Linked DNA regions of Homo sapiens. The protein of the gene in region 3 binds, or shares a complex with, the protein of the main gene of each other region. Each region holds a gene or a part of one and is shown on either strand. Other genes may lie near its edges. A codon is read from its position in the direction of its gene.

Region 1 (7,761 bases), on a different chromosome or scaffold from region 3:
TTTTTTTCTTTTTTGGAGACAGAGTCTCGCTCTGTCACACAGGCTGGAGTGCAGTGGTGCAATCTCTGCTCACCACAACCTCTGCCTCCAGGGTTCAAGCAATTCTCCTGTCTCAGCCTACCGAGTAGGTGGGACTACAGGCGCTGCCACCACGCCCGGCTCATTTTTGTATTTTTAATAGAGACGGATTTTCACCATATTGGTCAGGCTGGTCTCTCGGCCTCCCAAAGTGCTCAGATTACAGACGAAGAATATTTTTAAGGGCAAAAGCACATGTGAGGGAGTAGAAAAATGGCAAAACAAGAGAAGACTAACAAATGAAAGCACAATGAAAGACTAGAAAGATATGATATACAGACGCATCATCACACTCCAAAACTCCGACATTCTAGAAAGCATGGGCAGTTCACAGATGGCCAGCCTCTGCCAAACTGGGGGAGAATACTAACCTCTTCATATTCTTCACAGCCACTGCCTCTTCTCCCTCCATTCTTTACCTTCTATCCAAAGCACCCTGTTTTGTCATTTCACTCAAACCTAACTTTACAGAATAGCTTCACATGTTCCAAAGTTACTCACTAGTTAATCCATATTCCGCTGAAATCCCCAGGTTCTAATGTAAATGACTTTAAATTTGGGGGAAAAAAAAGACTCTAAGTGTAAGAGAGGTGTCATAATAACCAATCCTCAAAATTCTGCCACCACTCCACTTTATTTAATGGAGAAGTTATGTAGTTGAAAGAACATTCTAACTTCTGTCTAGACCAGTGGTTTTTAATCTTTTGGAAGCCAAGGTCCCCACTAAGAATCTCAGAAAGGCTCTAAGCTTGCTTTTTTTTTTTTTTAAGCTTGTTTAAAAAAAAAAAAATCAGGCTGAGCAGAGTGGCTCACACCTGTAATCTCAGCACTTGGGGCCAAGGCGGGAGGATCACTTGAGCCCAGGAGTTGGAGACCAGCCTGGGTAACATGATAAGACCCCGTCTCTACATTAAAGAAAAAAGCCGGGCATGGTGGCACATGCCTGTAGTCTCAGCTACCCAGGAGGCTAAGGTGGGAGGATGGATTGAGCCCAGGACGTCAACGCTGCAGTGAGCCACGATCCCGCCACAGCACTCCAGCCTGGGAGACAGAAAGAGACCTTGTCTCAAAAATAAAATAATGGCCGGTGCAGTGGCTCACGCCTATAATCCCAACACTTTGGGAAGTGGAGGCGGGGAAATCACTTGAGCCCAGGAGTTCAAGAACAGCCTGGGCAACATGGTGAAACCCAGTCTCTACCAAAAATACAAAACAAAACAAAACAGCGGGTGTGGTGGGTACACCTGTGGTCCCAACTACTCGGGAGACTGAGGTGGGAGCATCGCTTGAGCTGGGGAGGCGGAAGGTGCAGTGAGTCGAGATAGCGCCACTGCATCCAGCTGGGTGACAGAGTGAGACCCCACCTCAAAAAAAATAAAATAACACAAAAATTAAAGTCTTTAATTTCAGGAGTTACAGGAACCCTCAATTAAGGTCTGTTTTAGACTCTATCATCACATTCATATTTATACTATGCTAGCAGTTTGAAATTACAATGTACAAGTAGATATCTATCCTCCTCCTCTGGAGGAATAGACTGTAACTTACTCCACTGTTCCCAAGAGAAACTAAATCAGACCCACTGCCAAAATTCTGCTGCACTATCTATTTGACCCTGAACAAGTATCTTAAATCTCTACAGGTCTCAATATCCACAGGGCTGCTGGAAGCGCAAAATAAGATAACCTATGCTTAGTTACGATAAGAGACACAATTATGCTACTATTATAATCATGGTCATCCGTGAGTTTCCGGGTTTTTTTTGTTTTTGTTTTTGTTTTTTTGGAGTCTCCCTCTGTCGCCCAGGCTGGAGTGCAGTAGCGCGATCTCGGCTCACTGGAACCTCCGCCTCCCGGGTTCAAGCGACTCTCCTGCCTCAGCCTCCCGGGTAGCTGGGACTACAGGCATGCGCCACCACGCCCGGCTAACTTTTTTTGTATTTTTAGTAGAGACGAGGTATCAACATGTTAGCCAGGCTGGTCACGAACTCCTGACCTCAGGCAATCCGCCCTCCTCGGCCTCCCAAAGTGGTGGGATTACAGGCGTGAGCCACTGCGCCCCGCCAATATCCTTTTAACATCAACAATAAAAAGTGACTTGTAGCTAACATTTAGTGCTATGTGTCAAGCAATACCCTAAATGTTTAAAATGGATCATCCTATCAAATTCTATTAATGTTACAACTCCATCTATGGATGAAAAGTGTAACTGGCCCCAAATACCCAGCTTATAAACGACAGTGCTGTGATTATTCAAGCCAAAGCAAACTGACTCAAGATTCTGCGCACATCCACCTTTAATAGCTTCTTCCGTCACTCTTTAGATCCAATTACTAAAGTCTTATTGAATCCAAAATAGATCACATTATTTACATGTAAAGAGGAAAAATACCCTTAAAACATTTGTGGAAAAGGTTAAAAATTGCAAGCCATACTAACGATTTGTAAGAACTTTAGAATTTTTTTTTTTTAAGCAAAGGCAGCTACCAAAGTGTTCCGGGCGGGGAGGGGGGCGAGGGAGGTGAGTATGAGGAGCGGAGTGGAGCTGGACCCTTACAAAGGGACAGCGACAAACACCTCATACTCAAAACAAGGGGACTTTCAGTGTCATTTGCGCCGTCGGGCCATTGCAAATGTCCGCGCTGAGATGCCTACCTTGTCACTCGACGCAGCCGCCAAAGCTCACCCGGAGCTGCGTCAGTCCCCACTGGGTTCCTCCAGGCCAAGGAGGTACGACCTCCGCCGCAGCATATAAAGTATATGTCCAGGAGATGGGAAGAAACCCGCCGATACAGCACCCGGGTGCCCAAGCCCCCGAGAACTAGGCCGCGCGGGTACTACGGGGTGCGCGATCGGCCAGAAAGCCCGGGCCAGGGCGGCCCCAGGAGCGAGCACCGTCGGGAACAAGCGTCGGGAACAAGCCGGGAGAAAGAGGAAGCGCCGGCGCCAAAGGTCTCCCGCCCACCGCTGTCCCCCCAGGACTCTTCATGCGCTTGCAAGCGCCACGCCGCCCACAGGACTGCGCCAGCCGGCCGGCGCCTCAACAGAGCGCGCCAGGGAGCAGCGCCCGTCGGGAGCCATGACGCCTGAGCAGCGCGAGGCCGCCGCCCGGCCAGGTCGAGGCCGTCGGTCTCTTCGAGACCCACTCACCTGTCGAGGCGACGGGGTGGAGCCCTGCACCGAGGCGATGTACCGCTCCACGTCAGCCTTGCTGCGCCTCATCGCGCCGCCAACCTGGCTCCCGAGGCGCGTGAGACCAGCGCTCAGGCCCGCAGCAGTCGCCACTTCCAAGAGGAAAGCGCCTGCAAACCAGTGACGCAGCGCCGTAGCCGGCGGAGGACCACTGTGACGAACTTGCGGCGCAGCCGGCGGAGGACCACTGTGACGAACTTGCGTACTGCGTCAGCAGTGTGCGCCACGTTGGCGACGTCGGCGCTCGAGCTGCACTCGGCCAGGCTCTTGGCAGCGCCGCGTGCTCTGAGGGTGTCTTGGCAAGCCGGGATCAGATTTCGGCCGCCAGTGTCCACAGCCTAGGGCGTAGATTTCCAGCAGATAACAATTTGCGTGATGGGCTCTTAAGCGTTTTGGTCACTTGTTCTAAATTATAAGTGCGCAATGCATTGGAAGAAAAAAAGCACTCAGGCCAATTTGGTGAACGTGTAAATTGGAACAAAGTTTCTGGAGATGACTGGTTAAATACGTTGCATCGGACATGTGTGAATACTAAAGCATACATTTTTAAATTCATATCTTATTAAATGAGGGCCAGGCGTGGTGGCTCACGCCTGTAATCCCAGCACTTTGAGAGGCCACGGCGGGCGGATCATGAGGTCAGGAAATCGAGACCATCCTGGCTAGCACAGGGAAACCCCATCTCTACCAAAAATACAAAAAATTAGCCGGCCGTGGTGTCGGACGCCTGTAGTCCCAGCTACTCCGGAGGCTAAGGCAGGAGAATCGCTTGAACCCGGGAGGCGGAGGTTGCAGTGAGCCGAGATTGCGCCGTCTGGGCGACAGAGGGAGACTCCGTCTGAATTTAAAAAAAAAAAAAAAGGGAGATTTAGAACTGCATAATGAAAAAGACCACAAATATTAAGTTTTGGACAATTACAATTTTTTAAACAGTCATCTCGGCGGGGGATTGGTTCCAGAACCACCGTCTTATGCCAAAATCCACGCATTCCGCCGGGCGCTGTGGTTCACGCCTGTAATCCCAGCACTTTGGGAGGCCGAGGCGGGCGGATCACCTGAGGTCAGGAGTTCGAAACCAGCCTGGCCAACATGGCGAAAGCCCATCTCTACTAAAAATACAAAAAATTACCTGGGCGTGGAGGTGGGCCCCTATAATCCCAGCTACTCGGGAGGCTGAGGCACGAGAATCGCTTGAAACTGAGAGGCGAGGGTTACAGTGAGCTGAGATCGCGCCACTGCACTCAAGCCTGGGCGAGAGTAAGACTTCCTAAAAAAAAAAAGAAGAAGAAGAAGTCCGCGCATTCTCAAATCCCGCAGTCAGTCCTGCGGGTGGAACACTTAGAGGAAAAGTCAGACCTCTCTATATGCAGGCCCCTCCAATACTGTATTTTCTGTCGGCTTATAAGCGGGCCCAGGCAGTTCAAACCCATGTTATTCAAGGGTCAACTGTGTATATAGGAATAGCCATTCGCCTGGCACAGTGGCTTAAGCTGGTAGCCCCAGCACTTTGGGAGGTCGAGGCGGGAGGATCCCTCGAGTCCAGGAGTTCCAGGTTACAATGAACTGTGATAGCGCCACTGCATTCCATCCTGGGCACCAGAGTGAGACCCTTGTCTCAAAAAAAAAAAAAAAAAGGAAAAGGAATAGCCCCCCCAAATCTATATATATTTCACTAGCAGAATAACAGAACATACCAAAATTTAACAGTAATAATGTAAAGATTTTGAGCCGTCTGTATTTTCCAAATCTTCAAAAATGTCTATTTTGGGAATTTGGATATTAAAATCTTACTTTTAAAACAAAATTTAACAAAACATTTTTAATAGTGAGAACCTTTTAGATTTTAAAAGCTCACATTTGTGTAAACATTACAGTCTGAATTATGTGGACAAATATCAAATGCGTTGACATTTTTAACTGGAAATTTGGGCTATTTTGGTTGTGGATAATTTTTTATCCTTTTTGTTTTTCCATATTTTCTAAATTTTGATATAATGAACAAGTATTGCCTTTCTAAAAAAGGAAAAACAGCATTTTGTTTTATTTCAACAATATTGGATGTGAATAAAAGAAAAGAAAAAGATGATTCTGAGCTTACCAGTGTGTGTGACCCACATTAACAGAAATGACATGTAAAGAAAATCTAGTTTGGAGTGGAAAATCCTATTTTAGGTAGTTGATTTCTTTCACTTGAGGTACCATTTATATATCCATGTGGGGATAGCCTAGTAGGAAGATGAAATGGTAGGACAGAGATCTTGATGGAAGTCAGTAGTTGCGGCACAGTTCTGAGGCCCAGCTACTCCAAAGGCAGAGGGGGAAACATCCCTTTAGCCCAGGATTGGAGACTGCAATGAGTTATGTTCATGCCTTTGCACTCCAGCCTGTGGAAGAGAATGAGATTCCTATCTCTAAAACGAAAAGAGGGCCAGGCACGATGGCTCACGCCTGTAATCCCAGCACACTGGGAGGCCCAGATGGGCTGATTGCTTGAGGCCAGGAGTTCAAGGCCAGCCTGGCCAACGTGTTGAAACCCTATCTCTACTAAAAATGCAAAAATTAACTGGGTATGGTGGTGCATGCCTGTAATCCCAGCTTCTTTGGATGGCTGAGGCACCTGAATTGCTTGAACCTGGGAGGTGGAGGTTGCAGTGAGCTGAGATCGTGCCAGTGCACTCTAGCCTGGGCAACAGAGCAGACTCTGTCTCAAAATAATAATAATAATAATATTTAATTAATTTAAAAATAAAAACCAAAAGAGAAGATCTGATGGACTTAAAAGTCATATATCTCAGGTGATAGGTGAAACCACAAGTTTGCCTTGAAAAGTGTGTTGATAACAATAGCCATAGCTAACAAGTACTTGCTGTGTTCCAAAGCTCTTTCTGTTAGCACTTCATTTGTATTAATATCATTCTTCCACCAACTTTGTAAGGGTACTGTTATTATCCTCAGTTTTTACAGATAAGGAAAGCAAAAGACAGCCAGGCACCATGGCTCATGCCTGTAATCCAAAACTTTGGGAGGCTGAGGTGGGAGGATCACTTGAGCCCAGTAGTTCAAGACCTGCCTGGGCAACATAGCAACACCCTGTGCTTACAAAAAAAAAGAAATTAAAAACTAGCCAGGCATGGTGGTGCCTGCCAGTAGTCCCAGCTATTTGGGAGACTGAAGCAGGAGGATCTCTTGAGGCTAGGTGTTGGAGGCTGCAGTGAGCTATGTTCACTCCACTGCACTCCAGCTTAGGTGACAGAGAAAGACCCTGTCTCCAAAAAAAAAAAAAAAAAAAGGAAACCAAGAGAATGAGCACTGAAGCAACTTGCCCAAACATACTCACCTAGTAAAAATGGTATCATTAATCCATTTATGTTGAATATATCGAAAAGGAGTGCCCAAAGAGAGAACCTTCTTTTTCCTTCTTTCTTTTTTTTTTTTTTTTGAGACGGAGTTTCACTCTGTGGTCCAGGTTGGACTGCAGTGGCACAATCTCGGCTCACTGCAACCTCTGCCTCCCAGGTTCAAGCAATTCTTGTGCCTCAGCCTCCTGAGTAGCTGGGATTACAGGTACATGCCATCACACCCGGGTTATTGTTGTATTTTTAGTAGAGACGGGGTTTCACCGTGTTGGACAGGCTGGTCTTGAACTCCTGGCCTCCAGTGATCCATCTGCCTCGGCCTCCCAAAGTGCTCGGATACAGGTGCCCGGCATCCACCGCGCCCAGCATCCAAAGAGAGAATCTTCTTGAGGAACTCAAAAGACTTTTCTCTTTTGGATAAGCAGTTCATATTTCTGCATTTATTAGGGATTTTCACATTTTACTTCATTTTACACTACATTTTTTTTTTGTTCAGTGGTATAACATTTTCACCAAGGCACTGAAAATTCCATTTGCATTAGTGTCCAATGTCATATATTCCCTACCATGTTGCAAATACAGTTCATTTGTCCAGCTTTATTGAGGTATAATTCACAAATAAAAATTGTATACATTTACTAGGTACAACATGATGTTTTGCTGTCCAAGCATACCTCATTTTATCGCACTACATTTTATTGTACTTCACAGATACTATGTTTTTTACAAATTGAAAGTTTATGCCCACCCTGTGTCAAACAAATCTTTCTGCATCATTTTTCTTTTTTGAGACAGAGTCTCACACTGCCACCCAGGCTGGAGTACAGTGGCAAGATCTCAGCTCACTGCAACCTCCTGTGGCAGGCCAGGTCTCACTAATGCAGACTTTCATAACAACTGTTTCAGTAATTACTGAATGAAGTTAAATACTAAAAGCCAGTGCCCTTATACAAAGGCTGGGATGTAACAAAAGGCCATCAAAACTTTTGCCTAGGCCTGTCCTGGGCCTTAAAGCATGACACAATAATGAAGGAATTTTTTTTTTTTTTTGAGATGGAGTCTTCCTCTGTCACCCAGGCTAGAGTGTAGCAGCAGGATCTTGGCTCGCTGCAACCTCTGCCTCCCAGGTTCAAGTG
Region 2 (7,475 bases), on a different chromosome or scaffold from region 3:
TTTTTAGTGGTGACAAGGTTTTGTCATGTTGGCCAGGCTGGTCTCAAATTCCTGACCTCAGGTGATCTGCCCACCTCGGCCTCCCAAAGTGCTGGGATTACAAGTGTGAGCCACCGCGCCTGGCCCAAACTTTTCAGTTTAGAAATTAAAATGCTTTTTTTGGCATGGGATCCTAAGACTTAAACAAACTCCCAAATTTTGGAAAAGAAATGTAAACTTTCATTAGCACCAACCGGGAAATTAGCCAACTTCAATGTATTGGGTTTCTTCCCAATTCTGTGAGAGACATGCAAGCATATGTTAATATTTACATTTAGACAAGAAGATGAAAGCTAAGCACCCATTTTAGTTAGATTAATTGCTAGAGATTTAGAAGCAGATCATTCTTAAGATGTAGACTCTGGCCAGGCATGGTGGCTCACACCTGTAATCCCAGCACTTTGTTTTGGGAGGCCCGAGACTAGCCTGGGCAACAAAGCAAGATCCCATCTCTACAAAAAAGAAAGAAAGAAAAAAAAAGATGTGTACTTTAAAAGCATGCAGGGAGGGAGGAAGGGCAGGAAGGGAGCCAAATCTAGATAATATACTATTAGTAAATGCAACCAAGTATGTCACATGTAGATGATCGTCACTCACGTGTGGTTTCATGCTGTGATGGGTCCACTCTAAAAGATTCAGATCACTATTTCTTTTGGTCTTACTTTCATCCTGTAAATACTGACTAAAAAGCAAAACAAAGAAGGAATACATCAATAAATCCCTAAAGAAATTAACCATTATGGTTACATAGGGCTTTCTGATGTTAAACAGATATGCCATTCTCAAATCCATATTCATTAGCTTTTTAAAAACGTGACTGCTTTCTGGATTTTTTTTTTTTTTTTTTTTTTTTGAGACAGAGTCTCGCTCTGTCGCCCAGGCTGGAGTGCAGTGGCGCGATCTCGGCTCACTGCAACCTCTGCCTCCCGGGTTCACGCCATTCTCCTGACTTAGCCTCCCAAGTAGCTGGGACCACAGGAGCACGCCACCACGCCCTGCTAATTTTTTGTATTTTTCTTAGTAGAGATGGGGTTTCACCGTGTTAGCCAGGATGGTCTCGATCTCCTGAGCCTGTGATCCCGCCTGCCTCAGCCTCCCAAAGTGGCTTTCTGGATTTTTTATTTAATTTGGGGAGGTCTGCTTATAAAAATTGTACATGCTTGTTTTTAAAAGTTGAAATATATATCAGGTTGATAAGCATTAGATGCCCCCACCAAAATTAAGATACAAAAAATAACATAGGCCGGGTGCGGTGGCTCACGCCTGTATATCAACACTTTGGGAGGCCAAGGCGGATGGATCACCTGAGGTCGGGAGTTTGCGACCAGCCTGACCAAAATGGAGAAACCTCATCTCTACTAAAAATACAAAATTAGCCGGGCGTGGTGGCACAAGCCTTTAATACCAGCTACTTGGGAGCTGAGGCAGGAGAATCTCTTGAACCCGGGAGACAGAGGTTGCGGTGAGCCGAGATCACGCCATTGCACTCCAGCCTGGGCAGCAAGAGTGAAACTCCATCTCAAAAAACAAACAAATAAATAAATAACATAAAAAGCCAAAGACCACCGGGCACGGTGGCTCACGCCTGTAATCCCAGCACTTTGGGAGGCTGGGGCGGGCGGATCACCTGAGGTTGGGAGTTCAAGACCAGCATGATCAACATGGAGAAACCCTGTCTCTACTAAAAATTCAAAAATTAGCCGGGCATAGTGACGGAAGCCTGTACTCCCAGCTTCTTGGGAGGCCGAGGAACGAGCATCACTTGAACCCAGGAGGCAGAGGTTGCAGTGAGCTGAGACTGCACCACTGCATGGGGTGACACAATGAGACTCCATCTCAAAAAAAAAAAAAAAAAAAAAAAAGCATGAATGTAATAAAGTATGAATTTTCAAATCCTGGTATAAGCAGCACATCAAACTATACTGTATGATCCCAGTAAGAACATTTCTATACATGGGATAATATATGTATACATATGAATGCAAATGTATGTGCGCACAATTTATACACATCTTACAAAGAAAAGACTAGAAGAGAACCATTTTATAAACAATTGGTGTATCTTATGATTTTTAGAATTTTCTTCTCTATGCTTTTTATTCAAGATAAACAACCATAAATAAAAATAATATTTTATACTAAAACAATATTATTGTTAGCAACAACTTTTCTTCACAAGATTCATTTGTCCTTAGTAAAGTTAAAAGAAGGAACTTCATTGCTTCTAGTGAGCAGAAAAGGAAAAATGGACCCATCTTACTGATGCGTTTTCTCACTCAACTCATGTCACTACTTTACCTAGCTAAGAAGTAGGTATGCTTTAAAGATTGGTTTCTATTATAGCAATTACTATTTGAAACAGTCTCCTCAAACCACACACTTTAAACACTGCCCCTGGGTTCTGAGATAAACCCAACTCTCATGGAAAGCATAAAGATACAAATGGGCTTAAGAATTGAGAGGACTAGCACTCCCCAACTAACAGTTCCTAAGAACATTCAGAATAACGTATCGATGCCAAAGAAATCTAATGCAAGTCACAGGATTCTAATAAGATCTATTTTACATCATAATACATGACAAACTTGTTTCCAGTGATGCTACTAAACACGTTTTCTCAGTTGAAATCAGCTATTATTTTAAAAATAAAATGCATGCTAAGTCCTGAAATAGCCTTAACTACACATTAGACTACCATCCACACAGCTTCCTAGGATGAGATAAAAGAGAGATCACCTCAACAGGGGGTAGTGAGGTTTTCAACCTTTACTTACAGGAGAATCTCACAGATCCTGTGGCCCTTTTGTCCCATAGAATCCAGATATTTAAGACACTTTTTTCTTAGGTCAATCACCTATAATGGAAAAAGATAACATCCAGAAACATCTTAAATGTAAGAGGAGTGAGAATTTTACTTCCAAAAATAAAAGCATCTTTTAAAAAATACATGTACCAATATAAATTTTTTATGTATCTTAGAAATCCATTTATGGGCCATGCATGGTGGCTCACACCTGTAATCCCAGCACTTTGGGAGGCTGAGGCGGGCGGATCATGAGGTCAGGAGTTCGAGACCAGCCTGACCAACATGGCGAAACCCCGTCTCTACTAAAAATACAAAAATTAGTCGGGCATGATGGCACGCGCCTGTAATCCTAGCTGCTCAGGAGGCTGAGGCAGAAGAATCACTTGAACCCGGGAGGCAGAGGTTGCAGTGAGCCGAGATTGTGTCACTGCACTCTAGCCTGGGTGATAGCGAGACTCTGTCTCAAAAAAAAAAAAAAAAAAAAAAAGAAAAAAAAGAAAAACGATATCCACTTATATTGGTACATGTATTTTTTTTTTTTTAGTTAAAAATGTGTCTTACGTATCTTTAGTAAAAAAAGTGTGTTTTTAAGTTAAAAAATTAGTGGTCCTCTCAGAGTGATGAGACTTTTTTTTTTTTTTTTGCTTTCTTTATATCTGTATCTTTCTTTCCTTCTTTTCTTTCTTTCTCTCTCTCTTTTTTTTTTTTTTTTTTTTTGAGACAAGATCTCACTCTGTGACCCAGGCTGGAGTGCAGTGGTGTGATCACGGCTCACTGCAGCCTCGACCTCCTGGGCTCAGGGAATCTTCCACCTCAGCCTCTCACAGGTGTGCACCACCATGCCCACAAAGCTGGGACCACAGGTGTGCACCACCACGCCCAGCAAATTTTTAAATTTGTATAGACAGGGTCTTTCCATGTTGCCCAGGCTGGTCTCAAACTCTTGGGCTCAAGCAACCCCTCCTGCCTCAGCCTCCCAAAGTCTGGGATTATAGGCATGAGCCACCACACCTGGCCTTATAAATGCATTTTTCTGCAATAAACCTGTACTATCTTGTAAACAAAACTAAATAAATATAAATAACCCTTATGCATACTAAGACTCTTTCCTGTTAAAAATGAAAGCTCCTCGGCCAGGTGCGGTGGCTCCCGCCTATAATCCCAGCACTTTGGGAGGCTGAGGTGGCGGATCACGAGGTCAGGAGTTCAAGACGAGCCTGACCAACATGGTAAAACCCCATTTCTACTGAAAATACAAAAATTAGCCAGGTATGGTGGTGGCACGTGCCTGTAATCCCAGCTACTCAGGAGGCTGATGCAGGAGAATTGCTTGAACCCAGGAGGCGGAGGCTGCAGTGAGCCGAGATCGTGCCATTGCACTCCAGCCTGGGAAACAGAGCAAGACTCCATCTCAAAAACATACAAACAAACAAAAAAAAGCTCCTCAAGTACAAGGACTTCGTCCTGTAGCCTTCTAAAAGTTGTTCAACTCAAGAACTAAAAAGGAGGCCAGGTGCGGCATCTCACCCATCATTCTGAGAGGCTGAGGTGGGAGGACTGCTTAAAGCCAGGAGCTCAAGACTAGCTTGGGCAAAAAAACAAGACTCTTGTCTCTACAAAAAAATTAAAATAAATTAAAAAAAATTAGCCAGGCATAGTGGTGCATGTCTGTAGTCCCAGCTACCTGGGAGGCTAAAGTGAAAGGATCACTTGTGCCCAGGAGGTGGAGGTTACAGTGAGCTATGGTTGTGCCACTGCATGCCAGCTTGGGTGGCAGAATGAGACCCTGTCTCTAAAAATAAAAATTTAAAAAAAAAAAAGAAAAAGAAAAAGAAAAAAAGGCCAGGCATGGTGGCTCACACCTGTAATACCAACACTTTGAAAAACTGAGGCAGGAGAACCACTTGAGGCCAGGCGTTGGATACCAACCAGGGCAACATAGCAAGACTCCATCTTTCCAAATATATAAATAAATAAAATTAGGCAAGCATGGTGGACCATGCCTGTAGTCCTAGTCACTCAGGAGGCTGAGGCAGGAGGATCACCTGAGTCCAGGACTTCCAGGCTGCAATGAGCTATGATCACACCAGTTCACTCCAGCCTGGGCAACAGAGCGAGACCTGGTCTGTAATTTTAAAAAATAGTAAAATAAAATAAACATAAAATTTTTTAAAGAATAAATAAATAAAAAGAACTAAAAGGGTTGGGTGAAGGATGGGACATTAAAAAAAAAACTAAAAAGAGACTCTGCAGAGTATGCTTATAATATATACTATTGGCCTCTATACACAGGGCAGAAAAAGGCAGCATTATTTTTAAAAAATGGCCTTTATCCAAGTCCAACAATTAACCATTAACCCTCTCTACTCACCACCAGGCTCCAATGTACCTTCCGATGAATAGGCACCAGAATAATTTCTTGTTCAAAGAGATTTACCCCTTTGGTCCATCGTTTCACTGCTTGGTAACCCCCAGACTTTAATTTAGGATAGAAGAAAGTACTGAATACATGAAGTGCTGGATAGCCTTGCTTTTTATTTCTTTCCACCAGAAGATTCATGTAAAAATTAATGACCTACAAAATACCAAGGGAGCAAAAGCTGGAACATGGCAAACATATTATCAAAACTAAATTTCTACCTGAATAAGGATGAATTCGAAGGTAAGGTACTAAAGAAGAGGATAAAAAGACTGTCTATAGTAGAAGACAGGGAAAAAAGTGATCAGTGCAAAATGGGACACATGAAAATGAAATGAAACTGTACTTTTAAGGCATGTGAGTAACACTTAACAGCCAGAAGAAGGAATCCAGGAAGAAAGTCTGTGCAATAATGGAAAGATCTACATAACTGTATCACACCAAAAATACGCAGAAATATTAACAGTAAGTGAATTTTACTACATATAAATTAGACTTCAATTTTAAAATATTAACTTGAAGGACATACACCAAAATAATATTTTATTTATCTCTGAGTGGTGATACTTTTTTTTTGAGACGGAGTCTTGCCCTGTCGCCCAGGCTGGAGTCCACTGGCGTGATCTCGGCTCACTGCAAGCTCTGCCTCCCGGGTTCACACCATTCTCCTGCCTCAGCCTCCCGAGTAGCTGGGACTACAGGTACCCGCCACCATGCCTGGCTAATTTTTTTGTATTTTTAGTAGAGACGGGGTTTCACCGTGTTAGTCAGGGTGGTCTCGGTCTCCTGACCTCGTGATCCGCCCGCCTCAGCCTTCCAAAGTGCTGGGATTACAGGCGTGAGCCACCGCGCCCGGCCGAGTGGTGGTACTTTTGAACAGTAATATTTTTTACTTTTCCTGTATTTTCCAAATATTCTACGATAAACAAATTACATTTATAATGTAAAACAAAACATTCCTGTTTTCAAAGAATGTGTTTATAAGTAACTAGTCATAGGGGACTTCCCTCAAAGAGAGAACATGCAGGGGCTAAGCAGTTCGGGGAAGAACCCACCAGAAAATTGTCAAAGAACTTAAGAGTTAGCTTTTGCTAAATGTATTAAGGATACAAGATGACAAGTTAGGCAAAATTTTTCAGCTATCACTCAAAGAAAAATACACATAGTATATAGTGATCAATATATCCCTTTATTACTCAAAAAATAAAACAGGCCAGGCACGGTGGCTCACGCCTGTAATCCCAGCACTTTGGGAGGCCAAGGCGGGCGGATCACCTGAGGTCCAGAGTTTGAGACCAACCTGACCAACATGGAGAAACCCTGTCTCTACTAAAAATACAAAATTAGCCGGGCATGGTGGCGCATGCCTGTAATCCCAGCTACTTGGGAGGCTGAGGTAGGAGAATTGCTTGAACCCAGGAGGTGGAGGTTGCGCTGAGCCAAGATTGCGCCATTGCACTCCAGCCTGGACAACAAGAGCAAAACTCTGTCTCAAAAACAAAACCAAAAAACAAAAACAAAAAAATAGCTACTATAAGAATTCACCTAAAATACAGTATCACTTGCTGCTTCCTCCCGTTTATCAGCTGTACCCAGGGTTTATTGAAGACCAGTAAATGAAGTGGTGGATGCAATAAAATACAGACGCAGAAAAGGGAAACATCGCTAATCAAAGGCAGAAAATCAGAACTAACCATCTTTTTAAGATTTAAAATGTTTTTGTTTTAATTATAACTAAGAGTTGCATTACCAACCCATTATAACTGGGTAGGAGTCACTTTGATTATAGATAATAAATAAATAAACTTAATGATAGCCAAAAGGGGGAGGGAATACAACTTACTTCATCATTGAGCCAGTGATAGTTCTTTAATGTCTGAATATCTCCTCGAGTAATTCGCAATTTGAAAGCACTACTTAGGATTTCATCCTGTGGGCCATGGCCTAGGGCATTACTGATTTCCTTTTCCATGTCCTGAATTAGAAAGTTCAGAAGTTGCTATTTTAATATAGAACCATTCATTATCAGTTATTGAAAACTCCGAGACTGAAAAAAGTTTTTCATCTCGGCAACACCTGACTCTTGAGAAAAATATACTATCAAAGACCTACTAAACTACAGTAGGAAAACATTTTTTTCTTATTTTTAGTGATAGAGATGGGGCCTCATTATATTGCCCAAGTTGGTTGCAAACTCCTGGGCTCAAGCAA
Region 3 (7,475 bases):
ACAAAAAACAAAGGTACAGCAGATTAAGAGAAATAACACATAATACTACATGGTGACTTGATGGTAGATTATATTGGTAGGTTGACAATCAGTATGGACAAAAACAATCAACAAGCATTAGGATACTATCTCTAGTCCCAGTTTTATAGTCACCGTCTATTTCACAACTTTTCTGGAACTTGGCTTTCTCATCTATAAAATGGCAGTGAGGCCGGGCGCAGTGGATCATGCCTGTAATCCCAGCACTTTGGAAGGCCAAGGCGGGTGGATGAACTGAGGTCAGGAGTTTGAGACCAGCCTGGCTAACATGGTGAAGCCCTGTCTCTACTAAAAATACAAAAAAATTAGCCGGGCATGGTGGCGGGCACCTTTAGTCCCAGCTACTGGGGAGGCTGAGGCAGGAGAATGGCGTGAACCCGGGAGGTGGAGCTTGCCGTGAGCCAAGATTGCGCCACTGCACTCCAGCCTGGGCGACAGAGCAAGACTCCGTCTGAAAAAAAAACAAAAACAAAAACAAAAACTGTAGTGGTTGGGCATGGGGTCTAACACCTGAAACCCCAACACTTTGGGAGGCCAAGACAAGGGACTGAGGCCAGAAGTTCGAGACCAAACTGGTCAACATGGTGAGACCCCACCTCTAATTTAAAAATAATAAAAATTTGGCCGGGCACAGTGGCTCAAGCCTGTAATCTCAGCACTTTGGGAGGCCAAGGCAGGCAGATCACCTGAGGTCGGGAGGTGGAGACCAGCCTGACCAACATAGAGAAACCCCTTCTCTACTAAAAATACAGAATTAGCCAGGTATGATGGTAGATGCTTGTAATCCCAGCTTTTCCGGAGGCTGAGGGAGGAGAATCAGTTGAACCCGGGAGGCGGAGGTTGCAGTGAGCTGAGATCATGTCATTGGTCTCCAGTTGGGGCAACAAGAGCGAAACTCCATCTCAAAAATAAACATTTTTAAAAAATTAAAAAGGGGCTGGGCATAGTGGCTCACGCCTGTAAACCCAGCACATTGGGAGGCTAAGGCAGATAGATCACTTAAGATCAGGGGTTTGAGCCCGGCCTGGACAATATGGCGAAACACTCTCTATAAAAAATACAAGAATTAGCTGTGGTGGCATGCACCTGCGGTTCTAGCTACTCACGAGGCTGAGCAGGGAGGATCTCTTAAGACCTGGAGGTGGAGGTTGCAGTGAGCCAAGATCACACCATTGCACCACTCCAGACTAGGCAACAGAGGCATAACCTCTTTCAAAAAGACCTAAGACGGGAGGCTGAGGCAGGAGAATGGCGTGAACCCGGGAGGCGGAGCTTGCAGTGAGCCAAGATTGTGCCACTGCACTACAGCCTGGGAGACGGAATGATGCTCCATCTCAAAAAACCACCACCAAAAGAAACCCTAAGAAACAAAAATTAAAATAATAAAGACTGTAGTGACCTGTATATTTAAGGTTCTGAGGATGGATATATATAGATATTTTCTGTCCCTCAATATTCTTGAATAGGCCAGGCGTGGTGGCTCATGCCGTAATCCCTGCACTTTGGGAGGCTGAGGCGGGTGGATCACCTAAGGTCAGGAGTTCGAGACCAGCCTGGCATACGTGATAAAACCCTGTCTCGACTAAAAATAGAAAAAAAATTAGCTGGGCGTGGTGGCATGCACCTATGACCCCCCAGCTACTCAGGAGGCTGAGGTTGCAGTGAGCTGAAATTGCACCACTACACTCCAGCCTGGGCAACAAGAGGAAAACTCCGTCTCAAAAAAAAAATCCTTGAATAAGGAACGAAAACTTTATTTTAGGTTAGGGAGTATTTACTTATGATAAGTGCAGGCTAGAATGGTTCAGTGTTTTATCAGCAACAAAGGCAAAATCAGAACTTTTTCCTTGCCACATGTGCTACCCTATACCCTATGCTCCGTGCCTCACTTAATATACAGAAAATACCTGGAAATCCACGATACTATGGCCCAATTTTTCTGCTAGTATACTTGCATATTAACATGGGACCTAGAGAAACTTTTGGAACAAGGTGATATTTATAAAACTGTTATTCTTTGTTTGGCATCAGTATCAGTCTGTCAGAAACACCAAGTAGCTTTATTTCCTTCTTGAAATGTTACTTCTAAGCAGGCCTATTTATGTTTTTTCTAAGCCTCAATTTTCTATTTAATATTTCTCAGAATAAAGAAAACAGCTCATTTTAAACAAGAAGTTTATTTAAACAACAAGACGCTTGACTTGAAGGGAAAACTATCTAGGATTCTTTTTTGTTTTAGAGTAATTTATCCCTACTTAAAGACAGATTGCCCTACATGTAACAGCTACGTACAAAAAAGTTATAAAATTGTCCTTGGTTTTACAATGATAAATGAAAAACATTAAAATTCTCCAATTGAACAAGGTATGCAAGGATTTTTATGTTGTTGTTTTTTTTTTTTGTTAAAACAGTGAGAGCAAAATAACTTACTGGAATATAAAGATAAGAGCTGAATGAGCATGCCACTAATGGAGAAAGGGGGTATTTTCACAGAATCAGTATTTTTCCCCATCCCGTCTCCACTTGATGTCAATCAAAACATACCATTGGCTGTTTAGTTAAAAAAAAAAAAAATGCAATATGCTTGTGCACATATACCAGTTACTTTATGTACAATAAAGGAATGGGGAAGGGGGAAATGAAAGAATAGAGAAAACTATACGGTAGTAGTCAGGATGTGGTGGAACCAAATTGCAGTTTTCTAATTGAGAATGTAATCTTGGTCTTTAAAGAACAGAGTTCTGGAGTAAAGAAGCAGGTTCCCTTTTCAGTAGACACCTCCCGTCTGCTGTTGGAACACATCAATTGTATCTTCATCCTCCATTTCCAACTAGCATAAAAGAAAAAACAAATGTAAAAGCACTGATTAAGTTCTGAAAATTAATGATTTTTGGGTTTAAGTATGCTGAAAACATGTACATGTTCCACTAAGTTCCAAGTTTCATTATTTTAGATGTCTCATAGCTTAATGTATCAACACACTTGGTTTAAGTAATTTTTCACTTGGCTTCCTTTTTTATGACTATTAGATAAAACTTTTTTGTTTTTTTTTTGAGACAGGATTTCTGTCACCCAGGCTGGACTGCAGTGGCGTGATCTCAGCTCACTGCAACGTCCACCCCTCAGGTTCAAGCAATTCTCCTGCCTCAGTCTCCCAAGTAGCTGAGATTACAGGCATCCGCCACCATGCCCAGCTAATTTTTTTGTATTTTTAGTAGAGATGGGGTTTCGTCATGTTGGCCAGGCTGGTCTCAAACTCCTGAGCTCAAGTGATCTGCCTGCCTCGGCCTCCCAAAGTGCTGGGATTACAGGTGTGAGCCACTGCGCCCAGCCAAAACTTAGTTTTTGAGTAAAAAGCAGAATATTAGCCAGGTGCGGTGGCTCATGCCTGTAATCCCAGTACTACTGGAGGCCAACATTGGAGGATTGCTTGAGCCCAAGAGACCGAGACCACCTGGGCAACATAGGGAGACAACATCTCTACAAAAAAAAAAAGGAAAAAAAAAAAAAATTAGCCAGCCATGGTGACACATGTCCATACTCCCAGCTACTCAGGAAGCCGAGGTGGGAGGATCAATTGAGCCCATAAGATCAAGGCTGCAGTGAACTGAGACCACACCAGCTCACTCCAGCCTGAGTGACAAAGCAAAAGATCCTGTATCAAAAAAAGAGAAAAAAAGGCTAGGGCCACGCACAATGGCTCACTCCTGTAATCTCAACACTTTGGGAGGCTGAAGTGGGCGGGTCACCTGAGGTCAGGAGTTCAAGACCAGCCTGGCCAACCTGGTGACACCCCATCCCTATTAAAAAAAAATTTTTTTTTTTTTTTTGAGACGGAGTCTCCCTGTGTCGCCCAGGCTGGAGTCCAGTGGCAGGATCTCAGCTCACTGCAAGCTCCGCCTCCTGGGTTCACGCCATTCTCCTGCCTCAGCCTCCCGAGTAGCTGGGACTACAGGTGCCCGCCACAACGCCTGGCTAATTTTTTGTATTTTTAGTAGAGACGGGGTTTCACCGTGTTAGCCAGGACAGTCTAGATCTCCTGACCTCATGATCCACCCTCCTCGGCCTCCCAAAATGCTGGGATTATAGGCGTGAACCACTGCACCCGGCCTAAAAATATTTTTTAAATTAGCCGGGCATGGTGGCATGTGCCCGTAATCCCAGCTATTCGGGAGGCTGAGGCAGGAGAATCGCTTGAACCCAGGAAGCAGAGGTTGTGGTGAGCCAAGATTGTGCCACTGGACTCCAACACCGGTGACAGAGTGAGACTTGGTCTCAAAAAAAAAAAAAAAGGTGGGGGGGGGCGGGTGTGGCAGCTCACACCTGTAATCTCAACACTTTGGGAGGCCGAGGCAGGCAGATCACCTGAGGTCGGGAGTTCAAGACCAGCCTGGCCAAAATGGTGAAACCCAGTCTCTACTAAAAATACAAAAAACAAAACAAAAAAATTAGCTGGGCGTGGTGGCGCACGCCTGCACGCCTGTAATCCCAGCTACTTGGGAGGCTGAGGCAGGAGAATCACTTGAACCCAGGAGGTGGAGGTTGCAGTGAGCCAAGATCATGCCATTGCATGTGACAAGAAACTGTCTCAAAAAAATTAAATAAATGAAAGCTGAATATGTCTGTGTCGAGGGCCCACAGAAGGGTGATATGTTTAAAGAATCTCGCTGCACTGCTTAGCAAAGACTGAAAACAAATCTCAATAAAAACCCAAATTAGGCTGGGCGCCGGGGCTCACGCCTATAATCCCAACACTTTGGGAGGCCAAGGTGGGCGGATCACCAGGTCAACAGGTCAAACCCATCCTGGCCAACATGGTGAAACCCTGTTTCTACCAAAAATACAAAAATTAGCTGGGTGTGGTTGCGCACGCCTGTAGTCCCAGCTACTCGGGAGGCTGAGGCAGGAGAATCACTTGAACCCGTGAAGTGGAGGTTACAGTGAGCTGTGATTGCCCCACTGCACTCCAGCCTGGCAACAGAGCAAGACTCTGTCTCAAAAAACAAAAACAAAAACAAAAAACACCAAAACAAAAAACCCACGGCAGGCGTGGTGGCTCACAAGGTCAGTCATTCGAGACCAGCCTGGCCAACATAGTGAAACCCCGTCTCTACTAAAAATACAAAAAATTAGCTGGGCATGGTGGCAGGTGCCTGTAATCCCAGCCACTCAGGAGGCTGAGGCAGGAGAATCACTTGAACCTGGGAGGTGGAGGTTATAGTGAGCTGAGATCACGCCACTGCACTCCAGCCTGGGTGACAGTGCGAGACTCCAGGTCTCAAAAAAAAAAAAAAAAAACCCAAATTAATAAAACATAGTATGCTCAGATATTAAATACCATATAGCCGTTAAAAAATAAGATTTTCATGTACAGAAATGAAAATATCTTTAAGATACAGTAGATACAGTGTTAGGCTAAAAACACAATTTTAAAACTAAGCAGCAGCCAACTCGGTGCACTGACTATATAAGTTAGCCATGCTCTGTAAGGGGCAGTTAAAAAAAAAAAAAAGTACACCCCAAGGAGCAAAGCAGCTTATTGTATGACTACATTTGTGTTTTTCTATTTTTTCTTGCGATGGAGTTTCGCTGTTGTTGCCCAGGGTGGAGTGCAATGGCGCAATCTTGGCTCACTGCAACCTCTGCCTCCCGGGTCAAGCAATTCTCCTGCCTCAGCCTCCCAAGTAGCTGGGATTACAGGCATGCGCCATCATGCCCAGCTAATTTTGTACTGACTCCGTCAATACAGAAAATAAAATAAAAACAACATAAACAAATAAAATAAAAACAAAATTAGCCAGGCATCATGGTGGGCGCCTGTAATCCCAGCTACTCGGGAAGCTGAGGCAGGAGAATCGCTTGAACCCAGGAAGCAGAGGTTGCAGTGAGCTGAGATCACGCCACTGCACTCCAGTCTGGGAGACAGGGCAAAACTCCGTCTCGAAAAATAAAAAAATAAAAAAAAGCTGGGGAGGCAGGAGGCCTGCTAAGATGTTTTAATTTATCACAATCCTGCTATCTAACAAATATTGGGAGAATAATTCTAAAACGAATCAATTCCAAATTCTTCAAAATGAAGTAAAATGAATTGCAAATTCAACCTGAAGATTTTAAAATGCCTCAAGGTCACGGATCCAAACAAATAACTCCTTGTTTAATATTTGTAACTACTATAGCAGATAATCCCGTTTTAGTGGTGGGTAAGGAGGGCTTAAAGACAGGAAATACATTCTAATAACTGAGAGTACAGCACAATAGATACTTTTTACTATTTCTTTTAAAACCAAACAAGCCTGTCATCTATCTACTAAAACAAAATTATCCAAATGTGAAGTTTTACAGTGAAACTGTAAATGCCTTTAAAAAATGAGGTTCCTGTACCAGCCTCATTTATCAATAGAATTTAGCTCCTCCTTGTGGCTACATACCATAATTGCGCCTTTTTTTTTTTTTTTGACAGGGTTTCACTCTTTCACCCAAGCTAGAGTGAAGTGGCATGACCTCCGCGCTCACTGCAACCTCGACTGTCTGACACCTTTCCCCCGCCCAGATTCTCCTGGCTCAATCTCCCGAGTAGCTGGGATGGGATTACAGGTGAGCACCACCATGCCCGGCTAATTTTTGTATTTTTAGTAGAGACGGGGTAGTTTCGCCATGTTGGCCAGGCTGGTCTTGAACTGCTGACCTCAGGTGATCAACTTGCCTTGGCCTCCCAAAGTGCTAGGATTACAGTCGTGAGCTACTGTACCCAGACTTTTTTTTTTTTTTTTTTGAGACAGGGGCTGTTACCCAGGCTGGAGTGCAGTGGCACTATCTCTGCTGACTTTAATCTCCGCCTCTCGGGTTCAGGTGATTCTCCTGCCTCAGCCTCCTGAGTAGCTGGGACTACAGGCGTGCACCATCATGCCTGGCTAAATTTTTTTTTTTTTTTTTTGAGTTTCGCTCGTTACCCATGCTCGAGTGCAATGGCGTGATCTCCGGCTCACTGCAACCTCTGCCTCCTGGGTTCAAGCGATTCTCCTGCCTCAGCCTCCCGAGCAGCTGGGATTACAGGCCACCACACCCAGCTAATTTTGTATTTTTAGTAGAGACGGGGTTTCTCCATGTTGGTCGGAGTGGTCTCAAACTCCCAACCTCAGGTGATCCGCCCACCTCGGCCTCCCAAAGTGCTGGGATCACAGGCATGAGCCACTGCGCCCGGCGATGCCTGGCTAATTTTTGTATTTTTTGGCAGACACGGGGTTTCACCATATTGTCCAGGCTGGTCTCAAACTCCTGACCTCAAGCAATCTGCCTGCCTCAGCCTCCTGAAGTGCTAGGATGACAGGTGTGAACAAGTGCACCTGGCCCGTAATTCCTTTTGAGAGACTGTCACCAGTTGAAATGTCTTCAAAATATTCTTCTTTTCAGTACAACTCAGGGGCTTTTCCAATTTT

Evidence for each region.
Region 1: the proteins of SUMO2 (region 3) and RANBP2 are in contact, whole or in part, in a crystal structure (PDB 3UIN), measured with the Homo sapiens proteins. Residues at the interface, in NP_008868.3 of Homo sapiens: His17, Asp26, Gly27, Ser28, Val29, Val30, Gln31, Phe32, Lys33, Ile34, Lys35, Thr38, Lys42, Leu43, Arg50, Gln51; in NP_006258.3 of Homo sapiens: Asp2630, Asp2631, Val2632, Leu2633, Ile2634, Val2635, Tyr2636, Glu2637, Leu2638, Pro2654, Thr2656.
Region 2: the proteins of SUMO2 (region 3) and SENP2 are in contact, whole or in part, in a crystal structure (PDB 3ZO5), measured with the Homo sapiens proteins. Residues at the interface, in NP_008868.3 of Homo sapiens: Arg56, Arg59, Arg61, Phe62, Asp63, Gly64, Gln65, Pro66, Asn68, Thr70, Asp71, Gln75, Leu76 (codon at 2,869), Glu77 (codon at 2,866), Asp82 (codon at 2,851), Asp85 (codon at 2,842), Phe87 (codon at 2,836), Gln88 (codon at 2,833), Gln89 (codon at 2,830), Gln90 (codon at 2,827), Thr91 (codon at 2,824), Gly92 (codon at 2,821), Gly93 (codon at 2,818), Val94 (codon at 2,815), Tyr95 (codon at 2,812); in NP_067640.2 of Homo sapiens: Gln385 (codon at 7,197), Asp386 (codon at 7,194), Leu395 (codon at 7,167), Arg396 (codon at 7,164), Tyr408 (codon at 7,128), His409 (codon at 7,125), Trp410 (codon at 7,122), Leu411 (codon at 7,119), Asn412 (codon at 7,116), Asp413 (codon at 7,113), Glu414 (codon at 7,110), Ser439 (codon at 5,348), Thr440 (codon at 5,345), Phe441 (codon at 5,342), Pro444 (codon at 5,333), Lys445 (codon at 5,330), Arg456 (codon at 5,297), Trp457 (codon at 5,294), Lys459 (codon at 5,288), His474 (codon at 5,243), Val477 (codon at 5,234), Trp479 (codon at 5,228).

Annotation. Positions count from the first base shown.
Region 1 is NC_000002.12:108,715,145-108,722,905, reverse strand, and holds the start of RANBP2 (E3 SUMO-protein ligase RanBP2), read right to left. Parts: upstream 3,425-7,761; 5' UTR 3,300-3,424; coding exon 3,228-3,299; intron 1-3,227. UniProt on the Homo sapiens protein: E3 SUMO-protein ligase which facilitates SUMO1 and SUMO2 conjugation by UBE2I. Involved in transport factor (Ran-GTP, karyopherin)-mediated protein import via the F-G repeat-containing domain which acts as a docking site for substrates.
Region 2 is NC_000003.12:185,617,244-185,624,718, reverse strand, and holds part of SENP2 (sentrin-specific protease 2), read right to left. Parts: intron 7,240-7,475; coding exon 7,108-7,239; intron 5,421-7,107; coding exon 5,217-5,420; intron 2,894-5,216; coding exon 2,814-2,893; intron 722-2,813; coding exon 637-721; intron 1-636. UniProt on the Homo sapiens protein: Protease that catalyzes two essential functions in the SUMO pathway.
Region 3 is NC_000017.11:75,165,533-75,173,007, forward strand, and holds the end of SUMO2 (small ubiquitin-related modifier 2 isoform a precursor), read right to left. Parts: intron 2,870-7,475; coding exon 2,807-2,869; 3' UTR 54-2,806; downstream 1-53. UniProt on the Homo sapiens protein: Ubiquitin-like protein that can be covalently attached to proteins as a monomer or as a lysine-linked polymer.